2 separate regions of the Homo sapiens genome follow, and region 1 is linked to region 2. A link means that fine-mapping ties the variant in region 2 to the expression of a gene that starts in the linked region. Tissue or cell type: whole blood. Region 2 holds a variant in brackets; the other region holds the start of a gene. All regions are shown on one strand. Distances are between the middles of the regions.

The links. PIP is the estimated chance that this variant, and not a neighbour inherited with it, causes the effect.
Region 1: TRANK1 starts here. The variant in region 2 is fine-mapped to the expression of TRANK1 in whole blood (TOPMed, PIP above 0.99).

What each region holds. Positions count from the first base shown.
Region 1 is chr3:36,940,802-36,948,904 of GRCh38, forward strand. It overlaps TRANK1 (tetratricopeptide repeat and ankyrin repeat containing 1), which reads right to left and starts at 4,253. Exons shown (of 24, transcript NM_001329998.2): 1 at 3,986-4,253. The coding sequence starts at 4,008. RefSeq lists a silencer at 3,901-4,120 and an enhancer at 4,351-4,420.
Region 2 is chr3:36,904,370-36,912,473 of GRCh38, forward strand. TRANK1 (tetratricopeptide repeat and ankyrin repeat containing 1) reads right to left here. Exons shown (of 24, transcript NM_001329998.2): 2 at 3,954-4,085. Among named protein-coding and RNA genes, the nearest start is that of TRANK1, 37 kb to the right of the region's middle. RefSeq lists enhancers at 3,525-3,574, 3,595-3,914, 3,925-4,074 and a silencer at 6,244-6,412. The variant G/T (reference allele first, on the strand shown) is at 4,102.

The DNA of each region.
Region 1 (8,103 bases), 36 kb after region 2:
GAGCAGAACTGACTTGAAAAACAAAAAGCAAGAAGGGGTGAGAAAAGGCAAGAAGAAAGACCATATTAGAGAAACAGTCTGGGGGCCAGATTATAGATGGCCTTAGTACCTGGCCAATGAGTTCAGGCCAATGAGTCCCTAGAAGTCATCAGTGATTGAGCCTCCAGGTAGAGTGGACCTTCATGGGCAGAAGATGAGCTAGTCTAAGGGTGAGCAAAAATGATTGCCCTGGTGGCCACAGCTGAACATGAAGGATGAGCCCATCCAATGTCAAGGCTGCTGTCTGAGCATTCTTGCCCCAGTGAATGAAGATCACCCAATATAGTGCTATAATTCTCTATATTTTATGTGTTGTGCACTACTGGCCTGGTTTCCTCCAAAATCCATCACTGATTTTTCGGACTGGGAATACTGCCCTCTTTCCAAGTGCTAGGAGGACCCAGTGCTTAAAAAATAAAAAATCCCAATCAAAATGTTGCTGGAACTTCAAAGACAGATATAGCTAAACCCAGAGTTGGCTTGGCTCCAAAAGACACACAGGGAGTCCCACCAGCCCACCAGGCTCACAGGAGCTCACACAAGCATGCTATGGTGAGCACAGGGCAGGTACTGTGAGGCTCAGCATCTAAGCAAAAGATGGAATTGATTCAGGTAAACGGAGTCCAGGGTATCTTAGGCAAAGGTCATTCACATTTCCAGATTTTCAACAAAAACAAACAAGGCAATACTTATGCAATTTTAGACCAAGAAAAATGTCTGCTCTGGCAGAATGAACCTTGCTAACCTAAGGAGTGACCAAAGGAGTAATCACTCTTGGCTGGGCACTGTGACATTTTTGTGTTCCAAAGATGCCTGTTTATCTGGCTCAATACTTTCTTTTTTAAAGGTTAAACTTAACCATTCTCCCCATCGCTGTAACCAGCCCGACTATCAGTCTTTGCTGTAACTGTTACAGTGTCATCTTTGCTGCCCCAAGTCTTTCTTTCCTGTAAAGATTTCTTAACAAGGGTGCTTTTGGCCTTGGGAACCTCAGGCAGCACTCCAAGGAAATTTGTTTTAAAAGCAATGAGCCTGCGGTCACTCTGAGGGCAAAGCACTGACATGTCAGCCCCACCTCCCCATCTGGAAATGCAGTGGAGGGTTCATTCCTTAAGGTCAAGAAAACCAACACCACATACTTGATAATGGCCAGAGAGGCCCACACCTCAACCTCCACTTCAGTTCTTAAAATCCTCCTCTTCAGATCACTTTACCTTCCCCAAACAGGAGGACTGCAGGCTCTACTTGGCTGCTAAAATAATCTTCATCCCCAAAAGCAAAGATAAAATAATGAGGGCATATACTATAGAAATGGGTCTTTGGTAGTAACTTCAGGAAAACAGAAGCAACCAGCAAATAGAAGTTTAATATTTCCACAAGGCCAGTCTCTATTTGGTTCCTGAGAGCCATGGACTGGGAAGTCAAGAGATAAGTTGTCTAATCCCAGATCTAACACTAACTCGTTGGTAATGACTAACAAGTGATGGCCTTTCTGGGCCTTAATTTCTTCATCTATAAAATGATCGTGGTCCAGCTCTTGATTGCAGCTGTGAAATTCTGAGACAAGACCCAAAGAATCCTTTTAGAAAACTATGAATCCAAGGCTGCAGTAGGGTTGCAGCATCTTCCCTTCTTCTTCCTCAAAAAAAAAAAAAAAAAAAAAAAAGAACAGGAGCTATTATGCCCCTACCTCCCTAGCATTTACACCAGGCCCCACTGGGATCCATGCAGGAGGCCAGCTCTCTGTGGACACATAGCCAGAACCAAAGTAACCAGAAGCATCTGCGGTCTGTCTTTGTAGATGGTACTGGCTTGAACCACACAGCCATGTCCTACAGTATTCTATCACTCAAGTATGAATTTCAGTCTACTTCATCACTCCTACACCAAGTCCTCACTTCCAAAGTCAACTCCCCTGTGAAATGCTGACGGTCTCCTCATACTCTGGGAGAGCGGCGGAAACAGAACCTGCAGTTGCCCCATAAAGCTGGTCAGTCGGTCATAAAGTGAAGTTAACAATTTATGACCCGCTTTAAAAAAAAAAAAAAAACATAGAATGGGCCGGCGTGGTGGCTCTGGCGTGTAATCCCAGCACTCTGGCAGGCAGAAGCGGGTGGATCACTTGAGATCAGGAGTTTGAGACCAGCATGGCCAACATGGCGAAACACCGTCTCCACTAAAAATACAAAAATTAGTCAGGCTTGGTGGCGCCCCACCCCCGGCCCCCCGTAATCCCAGCTATTTCGGAGGCTGCGGCAGGAGAATCGCTTGAACCCAGGAGGCGGAGGCTGCAGTGAGCCGAGATCGCCTCATTGCACTCCAGCCTGGGTGACAGAGCGAGAATCCCTCTGGTGGGGGGTGGGGGGAGGGAATAGAATGGAAAATATCATTGTGCCTCACCCTGTAGAAAGAATAACTATACCATGAAGCTCTTGCTGCAATTTTACATGTGTATGTGTGTGTGCGTATATATGTATATATAATATTACACACATATTATGCATATATACATTATATACATATAGGTGGGTGGGTGTGGGTCTTGATCGAAAAAAGACCTAGAAACCCATACATAGGCCAGTGGCAGTGGGATGCGACTCTGGGAGTGAATGCCACACACACCTATCCCACCTCTACCCACCCCCCCACCCCCCGCAGAGGATGCAAAAGCCAACAAAGAGCATATGAACTCAAGCACCTATCCTGCAATCCTACAAAACAGACCTGCCTGGAAAACAGTTGAAACAAACTCCTGACCACCGTCCCCGCCCTCCAACACACACACACCGTAGTACTTTTTTTTTTTTTCTATAAAGGACCAAACAGGATGCCATCCGGATAACAGCCTTATATCAAAAAGGATCCTGGAACCCAAAACGCTCAGCACGAGGGAGCAGGAGCGCATACCTACGCTGGGAACACAAGGCTTTAATCCCAGCTATTCCTTCCCGCATAAGGACTAACTGAGCCAGCAGCAACTGGGTTGGAGCAGATAGGGGAACTAGAGACCTCAGAGCCCCATTCTCTTTCTGCTTCTTAAATTTTTTTTTCTTTTATTTTCCAAATTGCACACTTCCATAAAAATTTTCCTAGGAAGCACCAAAGCTTTCAACTGCCCAGAAACACCCCGATCTGGGAGAAAAGGTGGCTTGAGCTGCACCTCAAAGATGGGCTCTATCTCAGCCGGGTTGCAAGTGCACAGGGCTCCCCGCGGGACGGAGACAGGGAGTTGGGAGGAAACGCAACGCGCCTCCCAGGCAACAGACTCCGAGCTCCGGTTCGGAAACGCTCCGAGGCAGAAGCAAGGGCTTCTAAGGGCTCCGCTTCCCAGCCTTGGGTCCCTACTACTACCTTCCCCCTAGACTCGGTGAGCCCAGGCTGATGGACCGTGCAGTCCAGTTTGAGCCAGCCCAGCAGCCCTCAATCGGGCGGGCAGGGAAGAAGGCCTCCTACTGCCGGGAAGAGGCCAGCGCGCTCCAAGTTCCCCGCAAATTCCGCCCTTCCCGCCTGGCACGGTTCCCTTGCACCGCTGTGCTCCGCTCCCAGGTTTCTGCCCGCCAAGAATGCTTGCCCCGGGGGCGCGCTCGCTGGTCAGGAACCTGTCGGCAGCCCCCGGGAACCCCTGAGGATGCGGAGGTGGGCCCGAGAGCTGCGGCTTCGATGCCGGGGTGGGAGCTAGGCAGGCCGCGCGCCGCCGCAGTCCTGTCGCAGCGCGTGCCCTGGTCCCTCCGGACCGAAAAGGCCGAAGCCGTCCCCCGCGACCGACCCCGCGCAACTGGCTCGGGTCTGCACCTAGATGGCTGTGGGCCCCACAGGGATGGCCGGGCGGGCCCGTTCGGCCGCTACCTCAGGGTCGCCAGTCCCCGCGCGCGGCCGCCTCCCGCCAGGAAGGGTGGCGGGCCCGGAAGGCCAGAGATGCCCCAGTGCTTCCCGCGCCGCTACGCACCTAGCTGCCCGCGGGTCCCACATGGCTGCGGCCGGAGGGTCCGCACCAGGACCGCCGCCGCCTGGGGAAGCGCTTCCCTGTGGGCAGGGCGCGGCGGGCAGTGCGGAAGCCCGAAAGCTACCGGAGCCCGGGGCAGGGGCGGCGCGATGCAGAGGCGGCGTTCGGGGGCCCCCAGCTGCCTGCGGCTCGGCTACCCAGCCGCGATCAGAGGGGGCGGGGGACGCAGGAACCCCGGCGTCCGGGCGGTGTGCAGCCGCAGACCTATTCCAAGTTTCCACGTAGTTGCGAGAGCCCAAAAACTGTCACGTGCACGTCGCTGCTGAGTGGGAGGAGGTGTTTGTCATCGCGTTCAAAAGGGGCGTTTCGGTGTCTCCCGTCATGCAAGCAAATGGTATGGCTCTCGGCCGCCTTTGAATAAACGAGTGCTTCGAACCCTTTACCAGGAGGGACTAGGCGCACAACCACCTCCGACACTCCTCGGGCATGCGAGAATTCGGCTTTCCTTAGTGGGGCCCATCAATGTTGTCCGGGAGGTAAAGAAAGTGATCGGCCAACGGCCTCAGCGTGGGTTTTCTCCTTCCCTCGTTCCTCCCTCCAACAAAGGACGTACGGAGAACAAGCCCCCTAGCTCCTACAGATGAGGAGCTCAGGAGTCGGGCGAATATCAAGTACTTACTGTGTGCTTGCCCCTCCACTCTGGGGAGGCTGGGGGTCCGGGAGTGAAGGGGGCAGCGAGACCGCGGGCTGCTCCACGCTCACCGTCGTGTCCATGGAGAGTAAGTGCGCACAGGCCTGAGCAGGCAACAAAATGAGGATCTTGCCTTGTCTTTCCACCTCCCCAGTGATGATCGACAGAGTAGTGGGTCGGAGAGGACCACCTCTGGCTGCTACCTCCCCAGCGGTTCTCGGCCTAGGGAGCCGGTTTGGTCTTCACAGCTTCTCTGGGCCTGGGAGTACTTTCCTACACACCAGAGAATCCACCCAATCAGAGAGCTAAGCCCGCCGCCCTCCCCTGGGGCAAGGTTCGGCCTACACTGCATCCCGGTGGTTCGCCCATCCTTCTGGGGGACCACCACACCAGGCTGCCTGGTGGCAGGGAGGACACCACCAGAGCTTTAGTGAGGGGGACCACACATTTCAGCGAAACAGAGAGGCTTTGGTAACACGTGGACACACCTAAGGCACACAGTATACTTCTCTCCACTGGTCATTCTGCGTTGTGAACTAGTCTCAGTCTAGCTAGTGGTCTCCTTGCTTCTAGAATCTCACAGAGATTTCTGTGCATTGATCTTCCCCAAACATCAGGATGAATCACGTACAGTTCAAAAGCCATCAGTGGCACTCCATTGTCTCCTAGAGATCAGGTTAGGTACCCGGGCATTTGAGATTCTTCTTCACAATCTTGCCCCACATTTCCAATCTTAGCTTCCTCATGCAAACTCTATACTGCAGTGCTTCCCAACCTTAGTTACACAATAGAATCACCTGGGGAGCTTAAAAACAAAAACAAGGCCGGGCGGGTGGCTCACACCCGTAATCCCAGCACTTTGGAAGCCTGAGGCAGGCGGATCACCTGAGGTCGGGAGTTTGAGACCAGCCAGACCAACATGGAGAAACCCCATCTCTACTAAAAATACAAAAAAAAAAAAAAAAACCCAAAAATATGCGTATGTTTGGCTTTTACTCCCAAATTGTCTAATTGACATGGGCGTCAGGAATTTTTGTTTTTGTTTTTGTTTTGAGACAGTCTCACTCTGTTGTTCAGGTGATTCTCCTGCCTCAGCCTCCTGAGTAACTGGGATTACAGGTGCCCGCCGCCTTGCCCGGCTGAATTTTTTAGATTTTTAGTAGAGGCGGGGTTTCACCATGTTAGACAGGCTGGTCTCAAACCCATGACCTCAAGTGATCCACCCACTTAGGCTTCCCCAAGTGCTGGAATTATAGGTGCAAGCCACCACACCCAGCCACATCAGGATTTTTAAAAGACTATAACATGCTGCAAAGTTTGAGAATCACTGCTAGCCACCAAATAGTTGGACTACTTGCTATTTCCCAGACATCATTGGTCCTTTCACTTTTAGGATACTTTCCATATCCTTCCTCCAATACTTTTCCCAACATCCCCCAATTCTATATTTAGGAAAGCACATGCCACCTCTTCTAGCATACCTCTTTCTGTTGGTGATTTTTGGGTTTGTTCAGTTTGGGTTTTGGTTTGGTTTGGTTTTGGTTTGGGGTTTTTTGGTTGCGGGGTATTTTTTGGTTTCGGAGATATTTTTGGTTTTGGGGTTTTTTGTTTTTCTTTTTGTTTTGGGGGGTTATTTTGTTTTGTTGTTGTTGTTGTTGTTATTTTTGCCAACTTCAAGGAGTCTACTTCCAGAAAGCCTAGCCAGGTTCTTACATCAAAGAGAGCAAGCCAAGGGATTGGTGAAGAGAGGAGGATTTAAAAAAACCAAAAAGTCCGTTTACACTTTGACCACTCTTTCACTAGTTTTCATAAGCATCTCAAAATCTTGTTGTCATACATCTTCTTTGGATATCTTCACCATAATCCTCAAAAGTCACGTCAGTATGTTATCTTTCTTTTTAAAACTGTTTCTTCTCTGTCTTCTATTTTTATATTTTTATCAGTTATACATTCACAGTTAAAAGAGCAGGCCTCAGCCAGGCGTGGTGGCTCATGCCTGTAATCCCAGTATTTTGGGAGTCCCAGGTAAGCAGATCCCCTGAGTCAGGAGTTCAAGACCAGCCTGACCACCATGGTAAAACCCCATTTCTACTAAAAATACAAAAATTAGCTGGGCATGGTGGCGCATGCCTGTAATCCCAGCTACTCTGGAGACTGAGGCAGGAGAATCGCTTGAACCTGGGAGGTGGAGGTTGCAGTGAGCCGAGATCATGCCACTGCACTCCAGCCTGGGTAACAGAGCGAGACTCCATCTCAATAAACAATCATAAAAATAAAATAAAAAATAAATAAATAAAAAGAGCAGGCCCCTTTTTCCCTTCCACCTGACTTCTTCCCTAGAAACAACCACTTTTACATCTTTCAGCTGATTATTTTGATGCCTATGCTCATGTCTCTAAATAACGTTTGTATTGCTACTTCTTGTTGTTGGGGCTTTTTTCCCCTCAGTTTTATGCATGATCAGGTAAAATTTTTGAGACTGTGCTTGTCTGAAAACCTTTATCCTTAATATAGTTTGGCTGGGTATAAAATTATCAGCTAGAAATCATTTTCTACCGGGCGTGGTGGCTCACACCTGTAATCCCAGCACTTTGGGAAGCTGAGACAGGCAGATCACCTGAGGTCAGGAGTTCAAGACCAGCTTGGCCAACATGGTGAAAACCTGTCTCTACCAAAAATACAAAAATTAGCCAGTCGTGGTGGTGGGCACTTGTAATCTCAGCTACTCCGGAGGCTGAGGCAGGAGAATCACTTGAACCCAGGAGGTGGAGGCTGCAGTGAGCCAAGATCATGCCACTGCACTCCAGCCTCAGCAACAGAGGGAGACTTTGTCTCAACAAAAAAAAAATAGAAATCATTTTCCTTCAGAATTCTGAAGCTATTACTTCAGTGACTTCTAGCTTCCAGTACTGCTGTTGGGAATTCTGAAAACATTCAATCATCAATCTTATCTATTTATTTAGAGACAGAGTCTCGCTCTGTCACCCAGGCTGGAGTGCAATGGTGCAGTCTCAGTTCACTACAACCTCTGCCTCCTGGGTTCAAGCATCAGTCATCAATCTTTTTATAGGACCTCTTCTTTTTTAAATCTCTGGAAGCATGAAGAATCTTCTTTTCCTCCCCAGTGTTTTGAAATTACACAATGATCTGCTTTGATGTGGGCCCATTCATTGATTCCACTGGGTACTGCGTGGGTTATTTCAGTCTCAACACTCAAGCTCTTCAGTCTGGGAAAATATCTTGAATTATTTTATTGATTTTTTTTTTCCATTTTCTTTCTCTCCCTCTCTCTTTTTAATCCTATTATTCAGGATATTGAACTTCCAGGACTGATCTCTGTGATACAGTTGCTTAATTTTCAAATCACTTCTCTCCTGTTTTCCATCTTTTTTTTTGTTTTGTTTTTGTTTTTGTTTTTGTTTTTGTTTTG
Region 2 (8,104 bases):
ATTATCTGGGTGTGGTGGGGTGCACCTGTAGTCCCAGCTACATGGCAGGCTGAGGCAGGAGAATCGTTTGAACCCAGGAGGAGGAGATTTCAGTGAGCCAAGATCGCACCACTGCACTCCAGCCTGGCAACACAGCAAGACTCCGTCTCAAAAAAAGAAAAAAAAAAATCTTAATCGTAAAAATAATACAAATCACTGTAGAATAATACAAAAATCACTGTAGATAATGCAGACAAGCACAAAAATATTAATAAACAAAGGAAAAATCACCTCCATTACTGTCCCCACCCTCGATGTTTTGTGTCTGGCTTCTTTCATGGCCCAACATTCCCTCTAGGTGAAGGGATGAGGCCCCAGAAGCACACAGGAGGCAGTGGGGTCAGGCAGTGAGGGATCAGCAAGGGAGCAGTGACCGCAAGTGTAAGAGATGCCATGGTGTCCATCCCAGACACTCTGGCCAGTGCAGCCATTCCCAGCTGCAATGTCTGTTGGCTGCAGCTAGAGGTTCTCAGCACCCTGTTCTCCAGAGATTTATCCTCAGCCTAATGAGAGCTACCCTCTCCCCAGGAAGTTACACCCATACTAGGGACTGAACTTCCCCCATCCCCAACTGCCAAAAAAAAAAAAATCCCTGGGTAGGCCGGGCACAGTGGCTCATGCCTGTAATCCCAGCACTTTAGGAGGCCGAGCGGGCGGATCACGAGGTCAGGAGATCGAGACCATCCCGGCTAACACGGTGAAACCCCATCTCTACTAAAAATACAAAAAATTAGCCGGGCGTGGTGGCAGGTGCCTGTAGTCCCAGCTACTCGGGAGGCTGAGGCAGGAGAATGGCGTGAACCCGGGAGGCGGCGGAGCTTGCAGTGAGCCGAGATCGTGCCGTTGCACTCTAGCCTGGGAGACAGAGCAAGACTCTGTCTCAAAAAAAAAAAAAAAAATCCCTGGGTTGAAGCCCTACCCCTCAATGTGACAATATTTGAACATGGAACCATTGGGAGGTAATTATGTTTAGCTGAGGTCATGAGGGTGGAGTCCTCACAATGGAATAAGAAGAGACGCTGGAGAGCTTGCTCTCTCCTCTTTGCACGTAACACAGTGAGAAGGCAACCATCTACAAGCCAGGAAGACAGCCCTCACAGGGGGCAGCTTGATCTTGGACTTCCCAGCCTGTAGAACTTTGAAAAATAAATTTCTGTTGTTTAAGCCACCCAGTCTGTGCTATTTTGTTATGGTAGCGCAAGCAGACTAATATAGCCCACTCCCTAGGATGACTGCCGGGAGCCAGACAGCCTAAAACCAGTGACTGACTGATATGAGAATCAAAAGGTTAACCTCCTTGCCTCAAGATGGAACCAGCTCTGCAGTATGATTCATGCTCCAGAGCTGCCTATGGGATCAGGCAAATCTTGCTTGGTTTAGACACCATCCCTGCTTAGAGCCTTCCTTGTGCCATCCTGCCTCCCTCAGTCCCCTTTCTCCTGCAAGTACGCTGTAAATCACATGCACCTGAGTCTCAGTGTTAGCTAGCTGTGGCAGGAAGGCCAGCAGCAGGTGATGGGCAAGGGGAACAGTGTCAGGAAGGTCCCACAAAAGGCAACATGAGGGTCCAGGCAGAAGTCCCAGTAGGGGTCACACAGTAAGTGGTGGAGCTGAGCTTTGAACACACATAGTGTGGGGTCAGTCTACAACCATAAACACTACACAATACTACCTCTTTCTAAGAAAGCTGAATGTTTGCCTTGATCGAGGATCTCTAGACCCAGCTCTGACACAATTCTGATATGTACCAGGACAAGGCAGAACTGCAGAAACTACAGACACAAGCTAATTACACTCAACTCAACCTCAACTAGAGTGTAGACATCAAGGAGATGGGAGGGGGAGGTGGAGCCGTGTTTCAGTAATTTAATTTGGTGCCATTTCCTAGCACAAGTTTAGGTTGTGTGCACCCTACAGATGCCAACATCTGCTCGCTCTACTGCAGCTGTTCCAAAAGGATGATCTGGGAACTTCTGGGGACCCTCAAGGCCACTGCAGGTGATCCACAAGGTGAAAATACTTTCACAGTTGTGGTAAGCTGAATAATGGCCCCCAAATACTGTTCTTTTTATGGAAAAAGACAAACTTTTGTGATTAACAAATGATGTAGCAGATGTGATCAATTTAAGGATTTTAGGAATAGGAGATTATCCTGAATTATGATAAAATCACAAGGGTCCCTATGATCGAGAGAGACAGAGGGAGACAGAAGCACAGCTGAGGAGAAGGCAAGGTGATGACAGAAGCAGAGATTGGAATGATAAGCTTTGAAGATAAAGGAAGGAGCCACAAGCCAAAGAATACACACCGCCACTCAAAGCTGAGAAAGGCAAGGAAGTGCCTTCTCCCCCTCAGAGCCTCCACAAAGAACCAGCCCTGCTAACACCTTGATTTTAGCCCCATTAGACTCATTTAGAACTTCTGATCTTCAGAATTGCAAGAGAAAAAATTTGTATTGCTTTAAGCCCTAAATTGGTGGTAACTTGCTACAGCAGCAACAGGAAACTAATACAATAATTAAGACATAATGTGCCTTGTTCATACTCATTCCCTCACACTCACACAGGGAGTTTTCCAGAAGCCATATGACATGTGATATTGCAACAGACTGAATACAGATGTAAGAAGCCAGCTGTCTTCTGTGGAGACAAGACATTAAGAAGGAGATTTACAAAAATGTACAAGTTTTTGTTTTGGAAAATATACTTTAAAAATACAACATGTAATAGATTTACTGATATATTTATTTATTTATTTTTGAGACAGAGTTTCACTCTTGTCACCGAGGCCAGAGTTCAATGGCACGATCTCGGCTCGCTGTAACATCTGCCTCCCACGATCAAGCGATTCTCCTGCCTCAGCCTCCCAAGTAGCTGGGATTACAGGCGTGCGCCACTACGCCCAGCTAATTTTGTATTTTTAGTAGAGATGGGGTTTCACCATGTTGGCCAGGCTGGTCTTGAACTCCTGAAGTCAGGTGATCTGACCGCCTCGGCCTCCCAAAGTGCTGGGATTACAGGTTTGAGCCACTCTACCCAGCAAATTTATTGATTTTTTTTTTTTTTTTTTTTTTTGAGACGGAGTCTGGCTCTGTCGCCCAGGATGGAGTGCAGTGGCGTAATCTCGGCTCACTGCAAGCTCCACCTCCCGGGTTCACGCTATTCTCCTGCCTCACCCTCCGGAGTAGCTGGGACTACAGGTGCCCACCACCACACCCGGCTAATCTGTTGTATTTTTAATAGAGATGGGGTTTCACCCTGTTAGCCAGGATGGTCTCGATCTCCTGACCTCGTGATCTGCCCACCTCGGCCTCCCAAAGTGCTGGGATTACAGGCATGAGCCACCGCACCCGGCCAATATTTTTAAATAAATACATATTTTATTTTTTTATCAGTTTTAAGTTCTACCATACTGTATTGACAGCTACAGCCTACATAAACAGAAGAAGCTCTTTAGGGTCCTCAGCAATGTTTAAGCATGTTGTGATACTACAATGTTTGAGAACAGGTCTGTAAGAAGCTGAAGGGGCAAGGAAAGAGAAAGTGAACCTTAGTGCCCGGCGGGGTGTGCGCTGTGGCCACGGAGTAAATGGCATAGATAATAAAGAAGATGAAATGAATGACAACGAAGAGGTTTGTTCGAAGACTTCAGCCATCCCATTAAATCTGACCCCTAGCCAGCCAGAACGGGAAGTTTTGTTATGTTTATCAACAGTCCTCTATGTTTCACTTTCTATTTCCCTTCTTACACAATCCCTGTTCACTTCTAAGCTGACAATGCAGAGAAGATAAATAGGAAGTGAGCAATAAAGAAAACAGAAACAGGGTGGAATGATAAGAAATGAAAAGAAATCATAAGGAACAGAGTCCCATGTACTGAAAAAGAAAAGATGAGGTGAAAATGCAAACACTTACCCCCACTGGTATAACTGCAGGAGAATCTGGATGGCTTCATCGTACTTTCTGATGGCCAAAGAGAAGTTCCCATTCTTAAGAACCTGGTTGCCGGATTCTTTCAGCAGCTCAGCGTAAGCTGTCAGGTCCATCCTGTGAGGAGACGGGG[G/T]AGACGCTTGCTGCCAGACCCGTGCAGGGCATGTTCACCTTCCGGTCTGCATTGCTGAAATCTGGAGAAGGAGTTCGCTCACTATGGCCCCACCCACCTTCAAAGGGCACATCTTGGCAACACCTCTCACCACCAGGAAACCAGGCAGAGTGTCTGACAAGACTATTTCTTTGTCAGTTCTTTTCTGTTCTCAAGGGTGGCCAGACCAATTCCATTTATTCAGCATTAATGATCTGGAGGAGGCTGCTTCCATGCATGAGACAACATAAACCTGGCAGGTAGTGAGTGCTATCCCTGTAACTGGCATTATTATTAATCTCATTTACCCATCATCACAGCCCACAGGAAGGCATTGTCCCCACTGTTCAGATGAGGAAACTGAGGCTCAGAGGTTCAAGTCACTTGCCTAAAAATCTGCTGATGGCATTTCCCATTTCTGACCCCAGATCTGACCAATTTCTAGTTTCTGCTCTTGACCACTGTACCACATCACGTATTGGTAAAAACTCAGCTGATAGTACTTCCACTCTCTTAGCAGATGGAACAGGGAGGGCAGGTGAAGGCCTCAGTATGCAAGTGGCTAGGACACAGAGACACAACCACTGTCTCTCCTGTCCCCCTCCTTTCTTAAAACACTATAAAATAAGCCTTGAAATATTTGTCCCTGAGACAGCCATTGCCTGCCTACTTGTCTGTGTCCCCCAAGGGTATTTGCCTCTTTCAGGTCAAACCCCTATTTTGTTAAGTTTTGTAGCCGTATGGCCTTGAACATAAGGGGTACTTAAATATCTGTGGTGTAACAATTGAATGCCAGACCCAGAGAAGACGCACATTACTGATTTTCTCCAGTGTGGCCTGGGTGGTTGGAGAGAACTGCCTGGCAGCCCTGACCACATGGGGGGCCTTGGTAAGTGTGCTGAACAAAGGCAGGAGAGGAGAGCACCCAGGAAGATCTTAAGAAGCAGCTGCCAAGGAGACAGGGAAAAGGTGGGGGTCAGAGAAGAGGTCCTTTAGTATTGCTTCCTCTCAAGATGGCAGAGGGAAAGGCAAATTGGTAGGGTAGGGTAGGTCTTAAATATGTGGACAGTTTCAGGTGTTCACAGATGACATGTACCTATGGGGTCATAAAATTTCTTAGGTGTCTTGATGACCAACACAATTCTTGGAGAGACAGTAATTATTAATTTTATCATTTTAAATCCAAGTAAGGGGTCAGAGGGGGAAACAGACCCAAGCACACATAAGTGGTGATTTATTTTAAACAATTTGACTTCTTGGGAATGGGGTTTTTGAACTGTACTCCACTTCTTAAGCAGAGCTTTAACAGAATGAGACACATGACTCTTAAGTCAGAATACTGAACTCTACCTATGCTTTTCATGTAGTAATCTCTAAATTATATGACTACTATTTACACAGAGATGACTAAGAAGAACATGAAAAAATGTAAAGAGCTATGTACTAGGGAATAAAGTATGCTTTTCTTTCAAATATTGTCGGCCATTTGTCCAATAAATATTCTTTAAGCTGGCCATGGTCAAACAACTGAAACAAGAAAATTGTTGCAATAACTGACAAAGAGTTCATATCCCTCCGTTATAAATAGCTTTCCACTGCAAGAAAAGACCAACATTCTCACCAAAATGTATAAGGGTCCTAAGAAACAATTCACAAAGAAACACCAAGTAATTGCTACTAAATATATGAAAAGTGGGTAAATAGGATCACCCTCACTAGTGCATAAGTAAATCAAAAATTGAACAACAAAATATCATTGGAAAATAATTAAAAGAATGACACGAAATGTTGGGGACACTGCTTACAGAGGAAATAGAATACATCATAAATAGGTTTAGCCTCATGGATGTTCACCACCTCGAAAACTTGGAAATAACTCTAAATGTTCCATAATATATAATGGGTTTAAATCAGTTATAGAAGATCCGTATGTTAGAACAACACACAGTTATTTTTAAAATCATGTTGTGGCTGGGCACAGTGGCTCACACCTGTAATCCCAGCACTTTGGGAGGCTGAGGCGGGCAGACCACCTGAGGTCAGGAGTTCGAGTCCAGCCTGGCCAACATGATGAAACGCCATGTCTTCTAAAAATACAAAAATCAGACAGGTGCGGTGGCACGCACCTGTAATCCCAGCTACTCGGGAGGCTGAGGCAGGAGAATCGCTTGAACCCAGGAGGGAGAGGTTGCAGTGAGCCAAGATCACACCACTACACTCCAGCCTGGGTGACAGAGTGAGACTCTATCTCCAAAAAATAAAATAAAATAAAATAAAATCATGTTGCAAAAGACCCAGTGCGCTGGCTCATGCCTGTAATCCCAGCACTTTAGGAGGCTGATCAGCTGAGGCGGGCGGATCACCTGAGGCCAGGAGTTCGAGACCAGCCCGGCCAACATGGTGAAACCCCGTCTTTACTAAAACTGCAGAAATTAGCCAGGCATAGTGGTGAGCACCTGTAATCGCAGCTTCTTGGGAGACTGAGGCAGGAGAATTGCTTGAACCCGGAAGGCAGAGGTTGCAGTGAGCCAAGATCACGCCACTGCACTCCAGCCTGGGTGACAAGCGCTAACTCCATCTGGAAAAAAAAAAATCGTGTTGTAAAAGAACATTTAATGACAGAGCAAGTTAGTAAATGAAAAATACAGGCCTATACGGTTGAAAAGGCATATTGTAAAAGAACATTTAATGACAGAGCAAGTTAGTAAATGAAAAATATAGGCCTATAAGGTTGAAAAGGCATATAATCCCAAATTGTTTTAAATACATAAAATGTATTGAAAATATGCCAAAATGTTAAAAGCCACGCCTTTGGGATTTGACAGAATTTTAATTTTCTTCCTTGATTTTCTGAATTTCCAATCACTCTACGATGTACCCTCTTACTAATCAGACCATAAATGTTATCAAACAGACTCTTTAAGGGTTTAACTGAAGAATTCAAACACAAGGTATTTCCATTGTATTTACAAATACAAAAAAAAAACTCTTCATTTCAATATTATTTTTCATAGTTCTCTAGAAACCAAGTCAGCTCTTAATGTTATGTGAGCAACAACAAATGTATTCACCCACCTATGTTTCTGCTTTTTATTGATACAATCACATCAAAGGTGAAAGAAGGAATGCCAACCATACAGAAGGCTTTTTTCTTCCTAATAGGATTCATTGAGAGTTACATTCTCATTACACGGAAGAATGCTTTATATCTCTACAATAGAATACAGATGGCTCCGTTGTTGGGTCTTTAAAAAAAAGAAAAAACTGACCAACTGATGATTTATTTATAAGATGAAATTATTAAATAAAAGTGGTAATAATTTACCATAATGACAATATTCTTCATAGCTAATATCTGCTAAGTACCTACTATGTGCTTTACATCATTGTGTCTTTTCATTCTTATAAGAAGCCTCGGCCAGGCACAGTGGCTCACGCCTGTAAACCCAACATTTTGGGAGGCCGAAGCAGGCAGATTAGCTGAGGTCAGGAGTTCGAGACCAGCCTGGCCAACATGGTGAAACCCCCATCTCTACTAAAAATATACAAAAATTAGCCAGGCATGGTAGTGCATGCCTATAGCCCCAGCTACTCAGGAAGCTGAGGCACGAGAATCACTTAAGCCCAGGAGATGCAGGTTGTAGTGAGCTGAGATCAAGCCACTGCATTCCAGCCTGGGCAACAGAGTGAGACTCTGTCAAAAAAAAAAAAAAGTGCTATAAGGTCAGCGTGACTCTATCTCTATTTTGCACATAAGGAAAGTGAAGCAAAGACAGGTTAAGCCACTTACCACTTGCCACAGTCACACTGAAATTGGTAATGTGAGAATTCCAACCTAGGTGGCCTCACTTTAAGAGCCAAACTACACTCTGAAGGGCCAAGACAGAGGCTAAAAGATCAGCACCCAGTAAAATCACTAGGGTATCTTATATTTTGGCTGGCACTGAGCACTCTACCCTGCACTTTCAGTTTCGTTAATGGTGTA